Linked DNA regions of Homo sapiens: region 2 is linked to region 1. Evidence: fine-mapped expression QTL. A gene starts in region 1. The other region holds a variant in brackets. All regions are shown on one strand. Distances are between the middles of the regions. Region 1 holds the start of PASK (PAS domain containing serine/threonine kinase). Region 2 overlaps PPP1R7 (protein phosphatase 1 regulatory subunit 7).

What was found. PIP is the estimated chance that this variant, and not a neighbour inherited with it, causes the effect.
Region 2: its variant is the best candidate, but not a certain one, in a credible set for the expression of PASK in nucleus accumbens (GTEx, PIP 0.52).

What each region holds. Positions count from the first base shown.
Region 1 is chr2:241,143,075-241,153,498 of GRCh38, reverse strand. It overlaps PASK (PAS domain containing serine/threonine kinase), which reads left to right and starts at 4,027. Exons shown (of 18, transcript NM_015148.4): 1 at 4,027-4,085. PPP1R7 (protein phosphatase 1 regulatory subunit 7) reads right to left here and starts at 3,032. Exons shown (of 10, transcript NM_002712.3): 1 at 2,952-3,032; 2 at 1-23. The coding sequence starts at 3,003. RefSeq lists silencers at 2,611-2,950, 4,081-4,440, 4,501-4,560, 4,611-4,660 and enhancers at 3,241-3,400, 4,914-5,073.
Region 2 is chr2:241,168,792-241,179,309 of GRCh38, reverse strand. PPP1R7 (protein phosphatase 1 regulatory subunit 7) reads right to left here. Exons shown (of 10, transcript NM_002712.3): 9 at 9,443-9,529. The region is part of intron 2 of LOC105373971 (a long non-coding RNA gene); the gene reads left to right. Among named protein-coding and RNA genes, the nearest start is that of ANO7, 15 kb to the left of the region's middle. The variant T/C (reference allele first, on the strand shown) is at 5,671.

The DNA.
Region 1 (10,424 bases):
TTCAGACTCGACCCGCCTGTCAACTGAACCCACACATGTCAATGAGAATTCACATCCACTTTATGGGACTTTGAGGAACATATAATAAACACCCGGTTGTAAGTCAAAAGGATTTCATTTAAACATGTTTGTTGAATCCAGTTCAACGAACATCTGAGTGTCTCCCATGTCCCAGCACCATTTGAGGCATATGGCCGCGGGGAGAATGGGGAGCAGAGTGTGGAGCCCACATGGATACTTAGGTGAGGAACACACTACTTCTGCCCTCAAGGAGCTTGTGAAGAATTGCCCAGTGTTCTGAAAGCCTTGGATCACCTGTGATTAAATCCACTAATGGAACCCGGTAGTGAAGCACCTCCTGAGTGCCTTTCACTTTTGGGCTGGGGGATCACCACTGTGACCCTTCTGCCACATACCTCCATCCATGCTCCACTATTTATCTGGCTAAGAAAACCAGCCAAGTTCACAGGCCCACGTTCTGAAAGAAATCAAGACTAACTCAAATCAGACTGTGGGCAGGGAGGATCACTAAGGAAAAGGAGAATACAGCCAATAGTGCTGACCGCCCACAGAAAGCTCATTGGTGTGAAATGAGCTTTCACACTGGACACTGGACAGAGTGTTAGCAACTTAAGGCTTTTAAAGGTTCATAAATATTTTTTGAATTAAAGAATAAGGCAATTCAATGTGTCAGGTAAAAATTCTTTGGTAAGGTTGTCAAATCATTTTTCTTTTTTATAACTTTACTCATGACCTCTTTTGGAAGTCTGTCTGGAAAACATGAGGCACTAACACATTACTTGGAATTATCAACCATACTGAAAATACTCTTTCCTGACTATGGTTTATCTACAAAGAGATGTGCTCTTTGAGGGAAAAAGTTCAACTTCATCTTTGTACTTCCCGCTTAGCCTAGCAAAGTAAAACCCAAGAAAGGATTGCTGTAGAAAACAAGTCCTTATAAAACCCACCTCCAAAACCTCCAAATCCATCTCTTCTTCCCTACCCCCGCAATGACGGTGGCTCACTTACTTATTAGCTGCAGCCTGGGCTCCTGCCCTGCCTCCTAACTCGTCTCTGTGACTTGTCTTGCCCTGCTTAACCTATTCTCCCCTGCCAGAGAGTCTGATCTAATTCTAAAATCCAAATCTGATCTTTTGAGTCCAAAAGTATTTCTGGAATGCTCTTCCTGAGTTTGCATCTTGCTGCTAGAGATGCAGCTTTGGCAAATCGTTTCCATTTGAAAGCCTCAATCTCCTAGTCTGTGGAAGGGAGCTAGTATAGCACCTATGCCTCAGCAAGTTGCTGTCACGGTTAAATTAGAAAAGGCACAAGAGCAGTTAGCACGTGCATGACATGCAGTAGATATATAACAAATTAGTCACCACCAGGCACAGGTCACTTGGTGGTCCAGGCTCAGGGAGAGAAAGTTCTACTGCATGACAATCTGGCACAAAAACCCCAGTAAGAGGAGGAGTGGTGTGAGGTTAGCAAAGGCTTAGCTAACGAAGGTTGGCCAAAGTGAAGCCTGAGGGCAGCAGAGAGGGTCTGGAACATGGGACAGTGGCTCTGCATGTAAGAAAATGACTTTGGTGTACTGGGGATGATGGGCTGGTGAACAGGGACAATCAATCTAGCCTAGAGATGATGAAGGTCTGAGTTAAGGTACTGGCAATGGGAATGGAGGACGTATCGGAGATTTGGAGATACTTTCAAAAGTAAAAGTCAGAGCTCCTTGACTAACAGGACATGGGTGGGAGTGGGACAGTGAGAAAAGCCGGGCTTTTATATCTGTCATTTACCAAGACATGGAAACAGCTGAAGAGGGAGTGGGAGGATATGAAGAGGCGCTTCTTAAAAAGACTCAAAGGGTATGAAGTCCAAGACCCTTAACACTACCGCCCCCATCCCCACCACATACGATTTGGTCAAACTCTCCTCCACACCTTTTGACAGCAGTTTTCTCCGTCTTGAGTGATTCTTGCTCTTTTCCCTCACCCTATCCCCAACCTCGTTGCCTTCGAGTTATTCTTCAGGCTCCAGCTCAGAGCTCGCCCTGCTTCTGCAGCTGTCACCACTCCCTAACATGTCAGGCCTTCCTGCTGCACCCGCCCTCCTTCCCCAGCTCCACATTCCTCTTCCCTACCCCTTTCACATAAGGCAGTGACTGCTCTTCTGGGAGGTCTGTACCCCTCACCAAACCATGGGACCCAAAAGTACTTAAGCTGATGACACAACTGATTCCCCAGTTGCTAAGTGGGTGTGTGCACGCATTTTTACACACATACTGTACGTGCACGTATATGACTGTACCTACAGATATGCAGAAAATTATAAACACATGTGTACGTATAACATATACATATATGCATGTGGTTTTTTTTTCCAACAAAGTGAATGAGGAGGAAGAAAGTTGAATTCAGACTTTTTGGAACTATGACAGCTTTGAAAACAGGTATCACCTTGTGTAACTCAATCTTCCGGTTCCTTGTTACCCCTTCCCAACAGTCCATTCGATTTCAAGAGAAGACCCTTCTCCACCCTCACCACGTGAACCAAGGAGCAGACTCTGGTAGATCCCAGCGCCTCAGTTTCCTCGTCAGCTGACCGAGGAGGCTCCCCCGCCCGTCAATCTCAGAGGCTCGGGGCGAGGCTCCAACTGGACTGAATGGAGCCACCGCGTCCCATTCAGCCCCACCCCCGGCCTGGCCTCGCGCCGCCGCTCTCCCCCTAGCTCTGGGTCCTTCCCGGCCGCTGCCGCCCCCGGGCCGGGGCTCCCCCGAGGTCCAGCGCCTCCCCCGCTCCCCCGGGTCCGGCTGTCAGCTGTCAGGGGGCCGCGCGGCGGCGGCCAGAGGCAGGACGTGGAGTTTCTCTCAGGCACGGAGCAGTTCCAGCCCGCAGCTCCCCCCGCCCGCTGGGCCCTTGGGCCGCCGCCCGCAGGGGCCGCTCACCCTCCATCATCTCCTGCGACTGTTGCTGCCCCGCGCCGCGTTCCGCCGCCATGTTGGCTGCTCTTCCCCTTTCCGGAATCTGTCGCCTCAGACCCCTCAGCCAATCAGGGCTCCCGCCTCAGAGCCGGCCCTGCCAATGGGATTCCGGCGCGGCGACTTCAGCCGCGCCGCGCCTGCGTGGGCCCAGCGCCTCATGGGAGTTGTAGTTCCGTCATGAGGCCGCGCGCCGCGCCTCCCCCAGAGCAGGTAATTTCAGGCGGCGGAGCCGGAACAGTCTGGAGGCGAGAAGCTGGGAAGGAAAGCAGAGGGAGTCGAAGCGGGACGCACAGAGCCGTAGCTGCAGGCAGACGGAGTGGACGTCTAGGCAGAGTGGAGAGACGCCCTGGGCTTGAGAGTTGACTTATGTCACTGTCTCGACCTCGGAGGCGTGGAGGGGCCGCGGGCCAGGCGGATCTTTCCGTGGCTGCAAGGTGCGGGCCAGTCCTACGTGCATCCCTGACCTCTGCGAGCCTCGCTGGCTGCGTCTGTACAATGGGCCGAACGGCAAGAGCAACAACATTCTCCCGGCGTCCCCGCGCGGATTTTACCCATGCGAAATGCCGCCTTCTCTTGACGCTCGGAGCAGGCGGGCAGGTGCGGGGCACTTGCGCTGGTGGGGCCGCTAGCCAGCTGGCTGGCTCCGGGGCGCCAGCTGGGCTCCCCTTGCAAGTCGTTCCCAGCCCAGTGCGGACGCTGCAGCCTTCGTCTACCCTGCGGAGCCACCCGGCCCATGAACGAGCCGCCCCGCGTCCTCCGCCTTCAGAAAGAGGCCTCCAAGAGGCGAGCTCTGCGCTACTCACCCATTTTGATCGCGAGTCGGGAGGAAACCGCATCTGCCCGGCCCGGGGGCGGAGGCGCCCATTATTCCTTTGGCTCCTCCGAAGCGCCGTAGGGGTGTTTGGTGCGTCCCTAGCAACCCTTAGCGCGGGCTTCTAGACTCTGGCTAGCTTAGTCCCGCCCATACGCGCAAGTGGCTGGTCCGTGGAGCTTGTCAATCGGTGCTAGTCGCTGTGCGATTGGTCGGTGGGATAAAAGCGCGGAAGGGCTCCTTTCCGTGGTGTGTAGCCGGCTTGGCGTGACCCTCGCCTGATCCAGGTGAGATACCTGCGCTCGGGAGAGCGGGCCGGGCTCCGCCATCTCCCCAGGGCGGCTGTGGGGCCTGCGCGGCTCCGCGCCCCTGGCCCAGGAGGATCCGCCGCCCGACTCTTAGACCAGCCCGACCCCGGGTCTCCCGCCCCTGCGCCCGTCGCCCTTCGCGCACCGCCGAGCCCGCGTCCTCTCCGTGCCCAAATCGCGGCGGGGTTGCGGCCGTTGGCCCTGGGCCCCGCGCCCCCAGCGTCTTCGGGGTGCCCTTCAGTGTAGCCTGCCCGGTGGGCGCCGAGGCCCCGCGCCTCGGGTCGCCTCGGGACCCTGCGCTCTCTTCACCGCAGCCGGCCCTGCGGGGCGAGCTCCAGGAGAACCAGCCCGGATCCCGCCAGCCTCCTGCACTGGGCGTGTGGGTCCCTGCGGGCTCAGCCGGCGCCGCGGGGTCGGGGGCGCGCGCCGCCGGCGCTCGTGGTTACAGCAAAGACCTGGACTTGAGCCTTAATTTTTTCACTAATTTTTCTTTCCCAGAGTACGGCAGGGGCCTGCGCTGCCGTCTTGAGGCCTTTCTCGTCCTTACCTTCCGCATCTCAGTACCATTCGATGTCCATTTTTCTCTTAGGGGTTCCCTCTCTTCATCTTTCTGCTGCTACCTTAATTTAAGACTTTATAATTTCTTGCCTGGATTACTGTAGCCTTTCTCCTGCTTTCCAGCCTTGCACCGACATGGTCCCTGGAGTAATCTTTGTAAAATGCATATCTGGCCATGTTACTCCTAAGCATTGAATCCTTAAAAGTTCATTTTGGGGATAAAATTAAGACTTTGGGCAGGCATAGGAGGCTCTGGGCTCATGCTTGGCCCTTCCAGGCCCACGTCCACCTACTCTTCTGGGTACTGAACTCCTCTCTGGGAGGCTTTGCCTCTGAAAGACTTCTTCACTCTGCTTGGTAGGGCCCGGCTCTGCAGGTGCCTCCTCCAGGACTGACATCCTTGCTGTGTTCTACTGCACTGTTCACCTTGTTGGCCTCATCCTGAAACTGGTTCTCCTTTTTGTTGTACAGCTGTGCTGACAGCAATGGGAGCTGTTTGCTTCTTAGCTTATGTTCTGGTGGGAGGGGGACAGTTGCTTCTAGAAGTTCGCCGAGATGCTCCCTGCAAAGTTGTCCTTGCTTCTGTTTGGTCTGAGGTGGGGTCACTTGTGTCTTCTGGAATCAAAACTAGCAATGGGAATATGGTTACTCGGTGGCACCATTAGGTGCTGTCTGCTGGGTTTGGGTTCCCGTGTCTGCAGCTCACAGTGGATACAAAGGACAATTTTAAAAATTTGGGCCTGGACGTGCAGGTATTTCTGGTTAACGTCTGAGTCAAAATTTAGTGATCTAAGGTCATGTGAAGCCAGACTCTGTTCTTTCTTGAGGCCAGGCTGTGGCTGTGGAGTGCACGGGAGGCTCCAGGGGCCTATGCTGTTCAGTGACAAACTGGCCCACGTGGACTTCAGATGCCCAGGAGGCACAGCGGGAAAAAGGATGCATCTTTCCTGCTGTCCTCCCCGCTCCCGCAGAGGGTCCCATCAGTTTCCCTCCTGGATAGGCTTGTAACTCTCAGTAACCTAATTAAACTTCCACAACTTTAGTTGGTATTTATTTACTTTCTCCCATGAAGGACAAAAAATTGCATGCCCTTACCCTCCCTTTGCTTTTTTTCCCCCTTTCCATTTCATGTTAGTTACTTTTACAAAGAAACTTCTGTAACATTTACAATATATTCTGAATAGTTATATTACTTTTTTATTATTTTATTTTTTGAGACAGGGTCTTGCTCTGTGGCCCAGGCTGGAGTGCAGTGGTGCTGTGTCCTCTCACTGCAGCCTCCGCCTCCTGGGCTGAAGCGATTCTCCCACCTCAACCTCCCAAGCAGCTGGGACTACCAGCATGTGCCACCACACCTTGCTAATTTTTAATTTTTTTTTTGTAGAGATGGGGTCTCCCTATGTTGCCCAGGCTGATCTCGAACTCCTGGGCTCAAGTAATCTGCCTGGCCTCCCAAAGTACTGGGTATATGACTTTTTAAAATAGTTTTGTAACATTGACATTGCAGTCTGAAGAGTTATATTTTTTAGGAATTAAAGTTTTCTAACAATGTATTCTGAAGAGTTATATTACTTTTTTAAGAAAGTAAGGTTTTACAACATTTACAATGTATTCTGAAGCTATAATTAAGTGTCCTGAGCTTTGTCTATAGGTTGGTTCTAAAAGTAGAAAAAACTGCCTCACACTATAATCATGTCATTGTTATTTATTATGGCAATAATTAGTGCATTTGGATGCTTAGAGAAGGAGATGTAAACCTGTAACTAAAGGTCCCATTCATTGTTGCTGCTTGTAGGAAAGCTGCACACTCGAACCCCAAACCCTATATGTAATAGCTTCCTACACATCTGCAGGTTTGCAGAGCCTTTGCCTTCCAGGGTCCTAGGCTGGGTTTGTGTGTGAATGTCTCTGAATTTTTTGGCCGTATCAGTTTATTCATACAAAAGAATAAAGGCAGTGTTAGTCATGAATTGTACCAGCAGAGTGGATGCATTTGAACCCATCACCCTAGGAAATCAGGGGACCTGTGCCCTTGTGCCTCTTCCCCACTCTTGCACCTGCCTGACCCAGAGGGAACCACCTGCCTGAAATTTAGGTTTACCAGTCTCTTATTTAAGAAGTAGTTTAATTACATAGGTGTGTTTCCCTGAACTACTTATTTAGATTATTTCATGACAAAGGAATCCTCCTGCTGATTGTCTTCCGTAACTTGATTTTTTCCACTCGTATATGGCTAAGATTCACCCTTGTGTGTAGTTTATTTGTTTTCACTGCTGTAATTAGTGGTATGAATATACCAGAATTTAAAATCTATCTTCTTGTTAAAGAGTGTTTGGGTTTCATTTCCTTTTTTCCTCCCTCTCTCCCGCACTCCCTCCCTTTCTTCCCTCCCTTTTTTCTGCCTGTCTCTTTGCCATTGAGAACCATATTGTCCCGAACATTCTGGTGTCTTCTTATCTGTTTGCAAAAATTTCTCTGAAATATAAATCTAAGTGAAAAGTGCTGTATCCATATAGACAAATGTTTCACTTGAATTGTTTTCTAAAGAGATTATATTAATGTATTAAGAGTTCCTGTTGATCCAAATCCTTTTTGACATTGGGTATTACTAGATTCTTCATTTCTGCTGACTTAGTAGGTATAACATCATCATGATTAGGATTTCCTCTCCTGTAAAACGCTTGTTCCTATTTCTTGACATTTTTTATTGGGCCATGTGTCTTTTAAAAATGTTTAAATTTTAAATAGTTGATCTTTTAAAGCTATTCTGGATATTAATTTTCTGTTGGTTATGTATGTGGCAAATATCTTCTCCCAAATTGTGGCTTGTTCTTTCGTTTTCTTTATGGTATTCTTTGTGAAGCTGTGTTCTCATTTTTTTTTTTCTTTTTTTTGGGGGGGACGGAGTCTCGCTGTGTCGCCAGGCTGGAGTGCAGTGGCGTGATCTCAGCTCATTGCAACCTCCACCTGCCAGGTTGTGTCGCCAGGCTGGAGGGCAGTGGTGTCATCTCGGCTCATTACAACCTCCACCTCCCAGGTTCAAGCGATTCTCCTGCCTCTGCCTCCAGAGTAGCTGGGAATACAGGTGTGTGCCACCATGCTCAGCTAATTTTTTTTTTTTTAGTAGAGATGGGGTTTCACCACATTGGTCAGGATGGTCTTGATCTCTTGACCTCGTGATCTGCTTGCCTCGGCCTCCCAAAGTGCTGGGATTACAGGTGTGATGTGTTCTCAATTTTAACGTTAAACTTATTAATCTTATTTTATAGCTAGAGTTTTTTGTGCCTTGTTTAAGAAAACTTTCCCTACCCCAAAGTCTTACAGATAGCCTCTTTTCTCCTAAAAACTTAGTGATTTTATTTTATATTTTATTTGGTTTGACAGGTCTCGCTTTGTTGCCTAGGCTGGCCTCCATCTCCCTGGGCTCAAGCAATTATCCTGCCTTAGCTTCTAGAGTGGCTCGGACTATAGGTGCAGGCCACGAGACCTGCCTGGCTAAAAAGTTTAGTGTTTTGACTTCCACAGATCAGATCTTTTATGCCCTGGGCACCATAGTGAGACCTCATCTCCTAGTTAAAAAAAAAGATGGCCATGTGAAGATACATACAAACAGGGAGAAGTCGGCCGGGCGCGGTGGCTCACGCCTGTAATCCCAGCAGTTTGGGAGGCCGCAGCAGGTGGATCACGAGGTCAGGAGATCGAGACCATCTTGGCTAACACGGTGAAACCCTGACTCTACTAAAAATACCAAAAATTAGCCAGGCGTGGTGGCGGCTGCCTGTAGTCCCAGCTACTCGGGAGGCTGAGGCAGGAGAATGGCGTGAACCCGGGAGGCGGAGGTTGCAGTGAGCCGAAGTCGCGCCACTGCACTCCACCCTGGGCGACACAGCGAGACTCTGTCTCAAAAAAAAGAAACAAACAAACAGGGAGAAGCTCTGTGATGGCGAAGGCGGAGACTGGAGTGACGCAGCTGCAGGTCAAGAACACCAAAGATGGCCAGTATGGCCAGTAGCCACCAGATGCTAGGATAAGGCAAGGAGGGGGGACTCCTTGGAGTTCCATATTGGAAGAGGTGGTGTTGGGAGGGCCACCTCCCCTTTCCTCTTCACCCCAGGCCTGCCTTGTCTTGGAAGGGCCTCGTGTGGGCATCCTGCTAGCTTGTCCAAGCTCGCTATTCCTGGAAGGCTGCTCCTCAGCCAGTTCACGGCTATAGGTGTGCCAGTGTGGGAGGACCTGGGTGGAAAGAGGCCTGTGTGTGTCTTAGAAGTGGGCACCAGACCCTTTGGCTGGGAACTCTGGGGTTCTGGATACCCAGAAGGTGGTCCAGAAGAGGGTATATGGGGTGTGGTTGGGCTTGCCTTGGCCCCAGGGTCTCCTCATTTCGTGGGGGAAACTCCAGCCATGGTTCTGGTATTGGCCACAGCCTCCTCTTGCTGTTTATCTAAAGCCTGGATGACCAGGTGGGGGCTTCCTGCCAGTAGAGGAAATCTTCTTGCTTTAAGGGCTCTTTTTGTTGAGTTTGGCCATGAGGACAGGGTATTGGTAAATGTGTACTTGTGTTTCAAGTGCTTGCCAATATGCAGGATGGAACTCTTAAGTATCTCCACTCTGCAGGGTGGTCACATGAATGTATACATGTGACAAGACTGCATGGAACACGTGCTCACATGCGCGCACACACACACGCTCATGTACACATGTGCACACGCACACACACGCACGGACACACACGCACACCCACACACACACACACCTGCAGGTAAATGCCTTGAAATCTGGACGAGGCTGATGGATGGTATCAAGTCAGTTTCCTGGCTGTGACACTCTCCTGTAAGATGTCACCATGAGAGGGAACTCGGAAGAGTATGTGAGATTTTCCTGTATTTCCACCCTGTATCAGCATTTGAATCATGTATAAGAGAAAAGCTAAAAATACAAATCTCTGGTGCCAGGCCTGTCTCTAGGAGACATGGCCTCTTGGCCATGGCCCCCGCGACCTCACTTGTTGGCAGCACCCAGGTGATTCTGTGCACAGCTGGTCGGATGGTCAGGACTCACTGTTTAGGGGAAAGCTGAGACCATGGGAGCTGTGCAGCCCCCACGTGCTGATGGGTTCATCATGACCTGGGAGTATTTTCAGTTGGTGTGTACCTGCAGTCCCTGCCTTCCCTCATGGCTCCTTCCCACCCTGTTCTTTGTTTTCCTCTCTCTCTCCTTCCCTCTTTCCCATATCTTCCTATGTATTTTTCTTGGAAAGAGCTTCTTTTTTTTTTTCTTTTTTTTTGACATGGAGTCTCTCTCTATCGCCCAGGCTGGAGTGCAGTGGTGTGATCTCGGCTCACTGCAAGCTCTGCCTCCCGGGTTCACACCATTCTTCTGCCTCAGCCTCCCGAGTAGCTGGGACTACAGGCACCCGCCACCATGCCCGGCTAATTTTTTGTATTTTTAGTGGAGACGGAGTTTCACAGTGTTAGTCAGGATGGTCTCGATCTCCTCGATCTCCTGACCTCGTGATCCGCCCTCCTCAGCCTCCCAAAGTGCTGGGATGACAGGCGTGCGCCACCGTGCCTGGCCCGGAAAGAGCTTCTTTTAGCACCACTTTGGGTGGACCATTCTCCCATTGCGGGTTCTGACCCAGGATGGCGGTTGGTGGTGTATGTCTTTTGGGGCCGAGCTGAACTCAGCATTATAAATTAGTTGGTTAAACTGTCTTTGTGTTTTTGCATTGCAGATGTTAATCAGCTTCATGTTGTTTTCTAG
Region 2 (10,518 bases), 26 kb before region 1:
AGATGACTCTGGGAACATGCTTTCCCTTTGCAATTAGCGAGTTCTCTGTGGCATGATCCTTGGGCCTGTGTGCAAACATCCCTTCTTCAACATCCTTCCCAGTAATCTCAGCAGCTGATCCCTTGCCCGAACCAACGGCTGGGATTCTGCTAGAGAACATCTTCTTGGCTGACGTTTTCCTGGCAGACTCTTTTGGTTTTTGGAACCCAAACTTGCATTTTGTATTTATGGGGTTTTCTATCTGTGTATTTTGCATATACATACATAGGATACCTGTATTTCCCTTCACAATTTTTTTGGCTGATATTATAGAAAATTCACATTAATTACCCCAAACTCAGTAATGTTTTAAGCAAAAGATGGGTAGAATTCTTAAGATACATTTCATAAACAACTGGTAGAATGTAAAAATCACTTATTTTCTGAAAATCTCCATGACAGTTTAACAAAGGAGATGCGTGACACAGGCACGGCCCATCAAGAGCCGTCCGTGGGGATGGTGAGGCTGCCAGACACAGGCACGGCCACATCGAGAGCTGTCCGTGGGGATGGTGAGCTACTCGGGAGGCTGAGGCAAGAGAATCCCTTGAACCCGGGAGGCGGAGGTTACAGTGAGCGGAGATTGCGCCACTGCACTCCAGCCTGGGGGACAGAGCCAGACTCCGTCTAAAAAAAAAAAAAAAAAATTAGCGGAGCGTGGTGGCGGGCACCTGTAGTCCTAGCTACTCGGGAGGTTGAGGCAGGAGAATGGTGTGAACCCAGGAGGTGGAGCTTGCAGTGAGCCGAGATCACGCCACTGCACTCCAGCCTGGGTGACAGAGCCAGACTCTGTCTCAAAAAAAAAAAAAAAAGCTGAAGACCAGTGACAAAGTAAAGTATCTGCAACACAGATGACATACTAAGGTTTAGTATCATTCATTGATAGAATCTCTATAAGTTAATAATAAAAGGGAAAATGCACTGGACTAAAGCTAGCAGAAAGTATCAAGAGGGAACAAAAGGACAAAGTGGTTGAAAACAGAGGCGCCAGGGTTAGACTCATCTGTAATTAAAGGAATGCAACTGAAACCTAATGAAATGGCCATCACTAGACTGAAGGGGAGCAGAAAGTGGGCCCAGGCCAGGCACACATGCTGGGAGGGAGGCACACAGCCTCTCCTCGAGCAGCCCCTACCTGTGCCCCCCGCTCCTTGCAGCTCACACCCAGACAGCCCTGGGTCAGGGGTGCCAAGCTGGCACAGGCTGCTTGTGCAGGGCGCTGCCTACAGGAAAGCATTCCATCAAGAGGGCTGAGGAAGCACAGCTGTGGCATGGAGCAGGCCTGCAATGTAATTTAAATGGCATCACTTGGCTTAAACGAGCGGGCAGCATCTGCCAACAGAGCATCTGGGAGGGTCCTGGGGAAGCCCCTGTGCCAGCAGGGCAGTGGGCAGATGGGCTCCATGCCGGCATCAGACACCATGAGGGTGGAAACTTTCCTGCCAAATGTTTCTCCTCCCCTGGCTACTGCCTTTGGTCACTGTGATGCTACCTTTCCCCTGGATTACTGGGAAGAGGGTGGGGGCCTGAGCAGGGCAGTGCTGGTCTCAGCCCACCCTCCAGGCCCTGGATGTCAGCTTGAAACAAGTCGCGTATGGCAGGGGCGGGATGCATCATATTGGTGAACTGTGTATTGCTATCCTCCACCTATTTTTCTATTGAATCGCTTTCTTTCACTTTAAAGAACTTTTTGTATGTCATAGAAAATAACCTTAACCTTAACCTCTCAGGCGACCAATGGACTCTTTCATCATGCAAAATACATACGCTTTATAAAATTAGATATACCTATTCTTTCTTTTTTCACTGATTTTTAAATCTTGGTTAGGAAGCTCTCTATGATTTTTTTTTTTTTAAGGTGGAGTCTAGCTTTGTCGCCAGGCTAGAGTGCAGTGGCACAATCTTGGCTCACTGCAACCTCTGCCTCCCAGGTTCAAGCGATTCTCCTGCCTCAGCCTCCCGAGTAGTGGTGACTACAGGCGCGTGCCACCACATCCAGCTAAATTTTTGTATTTTAGTAGAGACAGGGTTTCACCATGTTGGCTAGGATGGTCTCGATCTCCTGACCTGATCGTGCAGTGGCACGATCTTGGCTCACTGCAACCTCCGCCTCCTGGGTTCAAGCAATTCTCCTGTCTCAGCCTCTCCAGTAGCTGAGACTATAGGTGCATGCCGCCACGCCTGGCTCATTTTTGTATTTTTAGTAGAGATGGGGTTTCACCATATTGGTTAGACTAGTCTCAAACTCCTGACCTTAGGTGACCCACCCGTCTCAGCCTCCCAAAGTGCTGGGATGACAGGTGTGAGCCACCGTGCCCAGCTGCATGTGGTATTTTTAAGGCTCTAAATGCCCTACAGAAAACTTGTATGAAACACAGCTATCTCCGTAGTCACGAGAGTGCCTGCTGCCATCACAGGCTGGTTGCAGCTGCATTCTATGAGTCTTCACCAACCTGACAGATAACACTGTATCTCACTGTTTTAGTAGATTTTAAAAGTTAATGAGATATGGCCAGGCACAGTGGCTCACGCCTGTAATCCCAACACTTTGGGAAGCCGAGGCAGGCAGATCACTGGAGGCCAGGAGTTCAAGACCAGCCTGGCCAACATGGCAAAACCCCGTCTCTACTAAAAATACAAAAATTAGCCAGGCATGGTGGTGGCAGCCACCTGTAATCCCAACTACTTGGGAGGCTGAGGCAGGAGAATCACTTGAACCCGGGAGGTGGAGGTTGCAGTGAGCCGAGATCGTGCCACTACACTCTAGCCTGGACGACAGGAGCAAAGCTCCATCTCAAAAAAAAAAAAAAGAAAGAAAAAAAAATTAATGAGATAGGAAATGCTTTATGTATTTACAAGCAACTGTTACTTCTTGCTCTGTGAACACCCTAGTTTTCAAGTGGTACCTGGGTGTGAGCTGTTTTTAATGTAAGGATGTTAGCCCTGCATCTGACACATGTGGATAACATATTTTCCAATGTTATCTGTAGCTGGCCTCCACCCAGTTGGCCAGCCTTTTCTATGTTCCTTCTGCTCATTCAAATATGTTTCAGGCACTGACTGGGCATGGTGGCTCACACCTGTAATCCCAGCACTTTGGGAGGCCCAGGCAGGAGGATTGCTTGAGTTCAGGAGTTTGAGACCAGCCTGGACACCACAGTGAGACCTTGTCTCTACAAAAGATTTTAAAATGGTCCAGACATAGTGGCTCACTCCTGTAATCCCAGCACTTTGGGAAGCCGAGGTGGGCGGATTACCTGAGGTCAGGAGTTTGAGACCATCCTGGCCAACATGGTGAAACCCCGTCTCTGCTAAAAATGCAAAAATTAGCCAGGCGTGGTGGCATTCACCTGTAATCCCAGCTACTGAGAGGCTGAGGCAGGAGAATCGTTTGAACCTGGAAAGCGGAGGCTGCAGTGAGATTGTGCCATTGCACTCCAGCCTGGGTGACAAGAGCAAAACTCCATCTCAAAAAAACAAAAAACGAAACAAAACAAAAAACCCACAAATGTAGCCAGGTCATTGGTGCACACCTGCAGTCCCAGCTACTTGGGAGGCTGAGGTGGGAGGATCACTTGAACTCAGGAGGCCAAGGCTTCAGTGAGCCATGATCATGCTACTGCACTCTAGCCTGGGTGACAGAACAAGACTCTGTCTCAAAAGAAAAAAGTGTATCAGGCACTATTCCAGATGCTGGTGAGATAAGAGTGAACAAAACAATATCCATACTGCGGAATATTATTTGGCCCTAAAAAGAAAGGCAATTCTGACACATGCTTACAGAATGGGTGAATCTTCAGGTCAATATGCTGAGTGAAGTAAGCCAGTCACAAAAATAAATACTGCATGATTCCAGTGATATGAGGTCTGTAGTTAAATTCATAGAGACAGAAAGTAGAAGGGTCATTGTCAAGGTCTGGGAAGGGGAAAATAGGGAGTTATTGTTTAATGGGTACAGAGTTCCAGTTTTATAAGTTGAAAAGAGTCCTGGAGATGGACGGTGGTGATGGCTGTGCACCATTACGAATGTGCTGAATACCACTCACTGTACACTTCCACATGGTTAAGATGGTGAGTTTTATTTTATGCATGTTTTACCACAATAAAGAAATTGGGAGGGAAAACAAAGTAAACCAAACACTAATTTCCCTGCCCTTATGAGGTTTGTATTATACAGTGGGGGAGACAGACACAAAAGTAAGATAAATAAGTAGGACTTCTGTTTCAAGCCATGACAGAATAGCTGGTGCTGAGCTCCTGCCTTTGTCACAAGCTACTAGAAAATAGGATAGAATAGGCCGGGCGCGGTGGCTCACACCTGTAATCCCAGCACCTGGGGAGGCCAAGGCGGGCGGATCATGAGGTCAGGAGATGGAGACTGTCCTGGCTAACACAGTGAAACCCTGTCTCTACTAAAATACAAAAAAAATTAGCCAGGCGTGGTGGCGGGCACCGGTAGTCCCAGCTACTCAGGAGACTGAGGCAGGAGAATGGTGTGAACCCAGGAGGCGGAGCTTGCAGTGAGCTGAGATCGCGCCACTGCACTCCAGCCTGGGCGACAGAGCAAGACTCTATCTCAAAAAAAAAAAAAAGAGGATAAAATATATGAAATAATTGTTTTTATACATCAGACAACAGGCAACACAGATAGTGATTCTTGAGAGACAGGAAACAAATGAGGTGGGTGGTGTGATCATCCCGGCCTTCTGCCTGGAGGAACTTTCAGGACCACAAGGAGGCGGAACCCAAGCAGAGCCTGGTGGCCACACAGAGTTGAGATGGTGATTGTAGTTTGGGGAGGCAAAGGGAGCTGGAATGTATAGATAGGAGTGAGCTATGTAGGGAAAAAGCCTCCAGAAATCCACATGGTATCCTGTGGAATCCTGGACTGAAGATGAAGCTGTGCTAGGCAGAGTGAAAAGCTAAAGGCTGGTCGAAGAACTACTAAGCAGCCCCAAGATGCAGAATGCCCAGAGCTCACCCATAGCAGGTCCATGTTTGTGTTCCCGTCAACCACAGTGGAGAGAACTTAAATACACAGGATATTCACCAGAGATCCTAGGAGGGCCACAGCTTCAAAACAGTGCTAGATTAATCTTACGGAGTAGACTATTTAGATGTACTCTAATAAAGCTTAAAAACAAGCCTCAAAAGGATCAAGCTGTAACTTAATTGCCTGTCAGATAAAGTTCAGTATGTTTTGAAGGAAAACAACATAAATTCCAGACATTCAACAATTGAACACCATAAAGCCCAGGATCTAATAAAAAATTACAAGACGTGAAGAAGGAAGGACTTAAAGGAAAACATGAATCTAATGAAGAGAGAAAAATAATCTACCAAAAAAAAAAAAATAAAGCCAAATGTTCTTTTAGAGTTGAGAAAAATACAGTATCTGAAATAAAAAATTCATGACATGGGCTTAACAGCAGATAGGCTACTACAGATGATAAGATCATGATCTTGAAGATTTAACAACAGAAATTATACAAACAAGCACAGCAAGATGAAAGCCCAAGGGGTGGAGCAGGGTGGAGGCAATGGCCTCAGGGGCCTCGCTAGTGCCAGGGGAACATGCATAACTGGGTTTTCAGAGAGAAACCGGGGTGAGGAGCAAGGGCAGAAGCAGTT[T/C]TAGAGAAAATAGTCTCCAGAAGCTTTCCACATTTGATGAAGACCATAGATTCACAGACCCAGTTAACCCTGACACATCACAGAAAATAAACTACACCATGGCACGCTATATTCAAGTTGCAAAAAACAAAACAAAATAAGAAACAATGATTAAAAAGAACATTAAAAAGCAGCCAGAGGAAAAAAGATAAAAATGACTGCTGGCTTCTTATTAGAAATAATGCAAACCAGGGCCGTGTGTGGTGGCTCACACCTGTACTCCCAGCCCTTTGGGAGGCTGAGGCAGGAGGACTGTCTGAGCTCAGGAGTTCGAGACCAGTCTGGGCAACATGGCAAGATCCCGTCCTTTTTTTTTTTTTTTTTTTTTTTTGAGAAAGTCTTGCTCTGTTGCCCAAGTTGGACTACAGTGGCATGATCTTGGCTCACTGCAACCTCTGCCTCCTGGATTCAAGCGATTCTCCTGTCTCAGCCTCCCCAGTAGCTGGGACTACAGGCACGTGCCACCACGCCCAGCTAATTTTTGAATTTTTAGTTGAGACGGGGTTTCGCCATGTTGGTCAGGTTGGTCTCAAACTCCTGACCTGAAGTGATCCACCTTGGGATTACAGGTGTGAGCCACCGTGTCTGGCCCCATCTCTATTTATTTTTAAAAAATATTTTTAAAATAATAAAAATTTTATAAAGGAGAAATAATGCAAACCAGAGGATGAAAGAACAAAGTATTTAATGTACTTAAAAAGGAAAAAAAAATCTCTCAAGCTAGAATTGTGTATCCATAATATTAAATTCCAAAAATGCAGGCAAATTAAATAGATTTTTCAAACAAATCAAAGTGAAGGATTGGTTTACTGCAGAATGCACGACAAAACAATAGAATTCTTCAGGTGGAAGGGAAATACCAAGTGGAAACTCAGATCCACACGAAAGAATAAACAATGCCAGAAAAGGTAAAATAAGTGAGTTTTCTTGTTTTTAAATTTCTTTTTTTTTTTTTTTGAGACGGAGTTTCACTTTTTTGCCCAGGCTGGAGTGCAGTGGCACGATCTTGGCCCACTGCAATCTCCACTTGCCAGGTTCAAGTGATTGTCGTGCCTTAGCCTCCTGAGTAGCTTGGACTACAGCATGTGCCACCATGCCCAGCTAAGTTTTGCATTTTTAGTAGAGACAGGGTTTCACCACGTTGGCCAGGCTGGTCTCAAACTCCTGATCTCAGGTGATCCACCTGCCTTGGCCTCCCAAAGTGCTAGGATTACAGGCATGAGCCACTGCGCCTGGCCATTTTTAAATTTCTTTAAAAGATAAGGTATCATGGGGATCGTAAGATATTTAAATGTAAAATATATAGATGGTGAAAATTAAAAATGTATTTTTAAATTCTAATCGCTAAAACAACCCTCCCTCCAAACAATCAACAAGAAAACACTAATACAGAGGTATAGCAAATAAGCCAATAATAGAGTTAAAATAGACTGCAAAAAAAAAAAAGTCACTCCAAAAAGTAGGTAGGAAAGAGTAAACAAAGAATAGATGAGACAAATAAAAAACAAATACTAAGATGATAGACTTAAACTCAACCATTACACAAAATGTAATTAAATGTAATTATATTAAATGTAAGCAGTCTAAAGACACCACTTAAAAGGCAGAGATTCTCAGACTGGAGAAGAAAGCAAGATCTAGTTACATACTTTTTATGAAAAACACATTTTAATTATAAAGGCATGGGTTAAGAGGAAATGGATGGAGAAAGATTCCATGAGAGCGCTAATCATAAGACAGATGAAGGGGCTGTGTTAATAACAGACAAGATACCCTTCCAGGACAAGGATAAAGAGGATAAGCAAGAAAGAAGAACATTTCATATGATAAATGGATCAATTCATCAAGAATTCCTCAATTCTAAATATGTATGCACCTGATAACAGACTTTCAAAATACAAGAAACAAAAACTGATGGAACTGAAAGGAGAAATGGATCCATTGACAATTATAGTTGGAAGGTTTCAACATTCTCCTCTCAGTAATTGGAACAAATAGGCAGAAAAATCAACAAACATAGTATGTGGGTTATCAGAAACTTGTTAAGACTGGTTTTCTATTTCTGCCTTAGAGATGAATGATGTGCCTCTCAAATGTGATATGAGCATGGAACTGAGTTTGAGAATTCCTGGTTTGCAGCTTTCCTTCCTGGAATGCAATTCTTTACCTGTAAAATGGGGTAATATGACCTTATCCACATGGTTGCTGTGATAATTGGATCAGAATGGAGAGAGGTATGGACACCATAAAGCGCTGTGCAAATTCTGGCTATTTTTTACTATCTTTGGTGGCCTAAGGAACAGGATTCTTCTGTGTTACAGGGTCAGGCACTACCTGGCCCCTAGTGATTGATCACCAGCCTGCCTGCCTCCCTGCTAGCTGTGGTACCCAGGTTGGCCCCTGCCTGTGGTCTCAGCACTCTGTGCCCCATGCTCTGTTCCTAGGCAGGGCATGCAGAAGGAATCGTTACGCTTCAGGAACATTGCTTCAGTATCAGCTCGTTTCCCAAACCTGCTCCCTAATTTTTTGCCAGGTGCCCTTTCCCTATCACCTGGTCCTCTGTCTCTGGACTCCTTATTCCTGTTGTTTGGTTTCTTTGTGTTGTTCCCTGGCTTCTTTGCCAACTCCCTATGCACTAATTCAACCAGCCTACCACCAGCCACACCTTCCTTCAAGGGTGGGCTGCACATAGACCCACCTGGACTCATTGAGGCTCCCCCTGGCCTGGTACATCTTTATCACCTGCCAAATTCTGGCTCTGATCTTCCCAGACATGCTCTGGTATCCCATCATGACACTACTCAAGACCCAGTGCCACTAATAAGGGGCAAGGAACATTTGCAGCAGGCCACCTGTGTTCTAGGGAAACTTGGATGACCTTTTAAAGTGGGGAAAGGAGAAAGCACAGGACATAAGCAGGGTCAGCAGCACGGCTAGAGGAGAGACAAGGAAGAATGATGCCTTACACTCAGCATGAATCCTGGATTAGACTGAATGTATCTGAGGACACTACTACATTCCCAGCATCACAGGGTGACACCTGTGCCGCAGTCTCTGCAGGGCCACGTGCTAGCGGAAAGGCAATAAACCTTAGGAGATTTCTCTAAGGGAATCCTAGCACTGAAGACTTCCACTCGGGGATCATTTCCCAACCCCTTTAGAGGAACTGCAAAAACTTCTTATATTCTGTTTCTCTTCCTGCTGACTCCACAACACTACTCCTGAAACCATACCTGTGACAAGACAAATACAAGGCAAATTCCAAGATGACTAACTGCAGAAACCCATCCAACATTTCCTTCTGTTGTGCTGGAATATATCTGTAGGGAATGCGTCTGCCTCTCTGCTGAGGTTTGCAAACCATTTGGTCAAATGACAATTGTAGGTTCTACCCATACCTAGATCAGGGCTTCTCCAACCTTTGTGTGTACTGCAATCACCCGGAGTCTTGTAAAGCAAAGATTTTGACTCAGTTTTCATCTGGGCTATGGTGGGGCCCAAGATTTTGCATTTCTAACAAGCTATGTCAATGCTGCTGATCTGTGGCTCACGCTGAGGAGCACAGACAACACCCAATACAAGTCTACAAGAGCGCCCACCCCAAATCTCATGATGTGCGGAGTCACTCAGCATGAAGGCTTACAGGAGATTCTTGTATTCATTCATAAGACATTTTAATCAGTGAGACCAGTTTAGTCAAAGTGTCATCAACCCCAGCGTGTATTAAACTTACCCAGAACTCTTGCAGCTCTGTTAGATGGCTGATATTTTCAATCTTTTTGATTCTATTTGATGCAATGTCCAACATCGTGAGTTTGTTCTAAAAGAAGGAAATAAAATGTTTCCTGGATTACCTCTGATCAACAGTGATTTGCATGACCACGCAGGCAGTGTCAAGTGCTGACCTTAGGGCTGCAGGTGCACTGCCCTCTCTGCCCTCACAGGGTAAGGGCATGCTATGGAGGGTGACGAGACCTGCTTGCTTCCTGCAGCCCTCCCTGGGACAGTGTTTCCATCAGAGCCTGCCCAGCTATCTCCCTGAGCTCTCCTGATCGCTGGAATTTGAGACTGTGTCAGACTCCAAGCCCAGTCCTCCCAGATCCCTGTCCATTGAGACAGACCTAGTGAGACTGATGGTCCCAGGAAGAACCGAGTAACCCCCTGACGCTCTGAAGAAAGGCTGACAATTGTAGAAACATTTACTTAGTGCTCATCACGAGGAAATGTACGACCAAGTAATCTTCAAAACAAAGTTCCTCTCTTCATTTAGGGATGAGGAACTTGGGGCTCAGTGGGGCTAAGAATCTGCCCAGGCGCACAGTAGCAGTGGGAGAGGCAGGACTCTCAGACCCCAGGCCTACACTCTTGTCTGGGAAAAGGGTCCCGGGAGCATAAGTGCAGAGAAGGGACCCATGCTGAGGACTGGGTGCTGGGCCTGCTGAGCACCTGCTGCAGGGTGTGTGCCCCCACTGGGAGACAAGAGTGTGTTTTTAGGATCTTCTACTCTGAAAATGCACATCAGTTACTCACTTTCCAATACATGTTAGCTAAGCCTGAGTAATAATTTTGTTTCTCATCAAAAGGAAAACATTTACAAGCTGTCTGAGAACCTCTGACAAAGTTCATTCCCTTCTCTGCCCTCACGCTCTGCTCCCTCCTGAGTCCCTTCCTTGGTTTTCTACTGCATTTTTGGTATTCCAATTCCAAAGCCTTCTAAGTTTTAAGGGAAAGTTAAAAAATTTCTCAAAAGCAAATACTCCTCCCCCCATCTCCCCTGAAATGTACCCAGCCAGTAGCTTTCCCAATTCG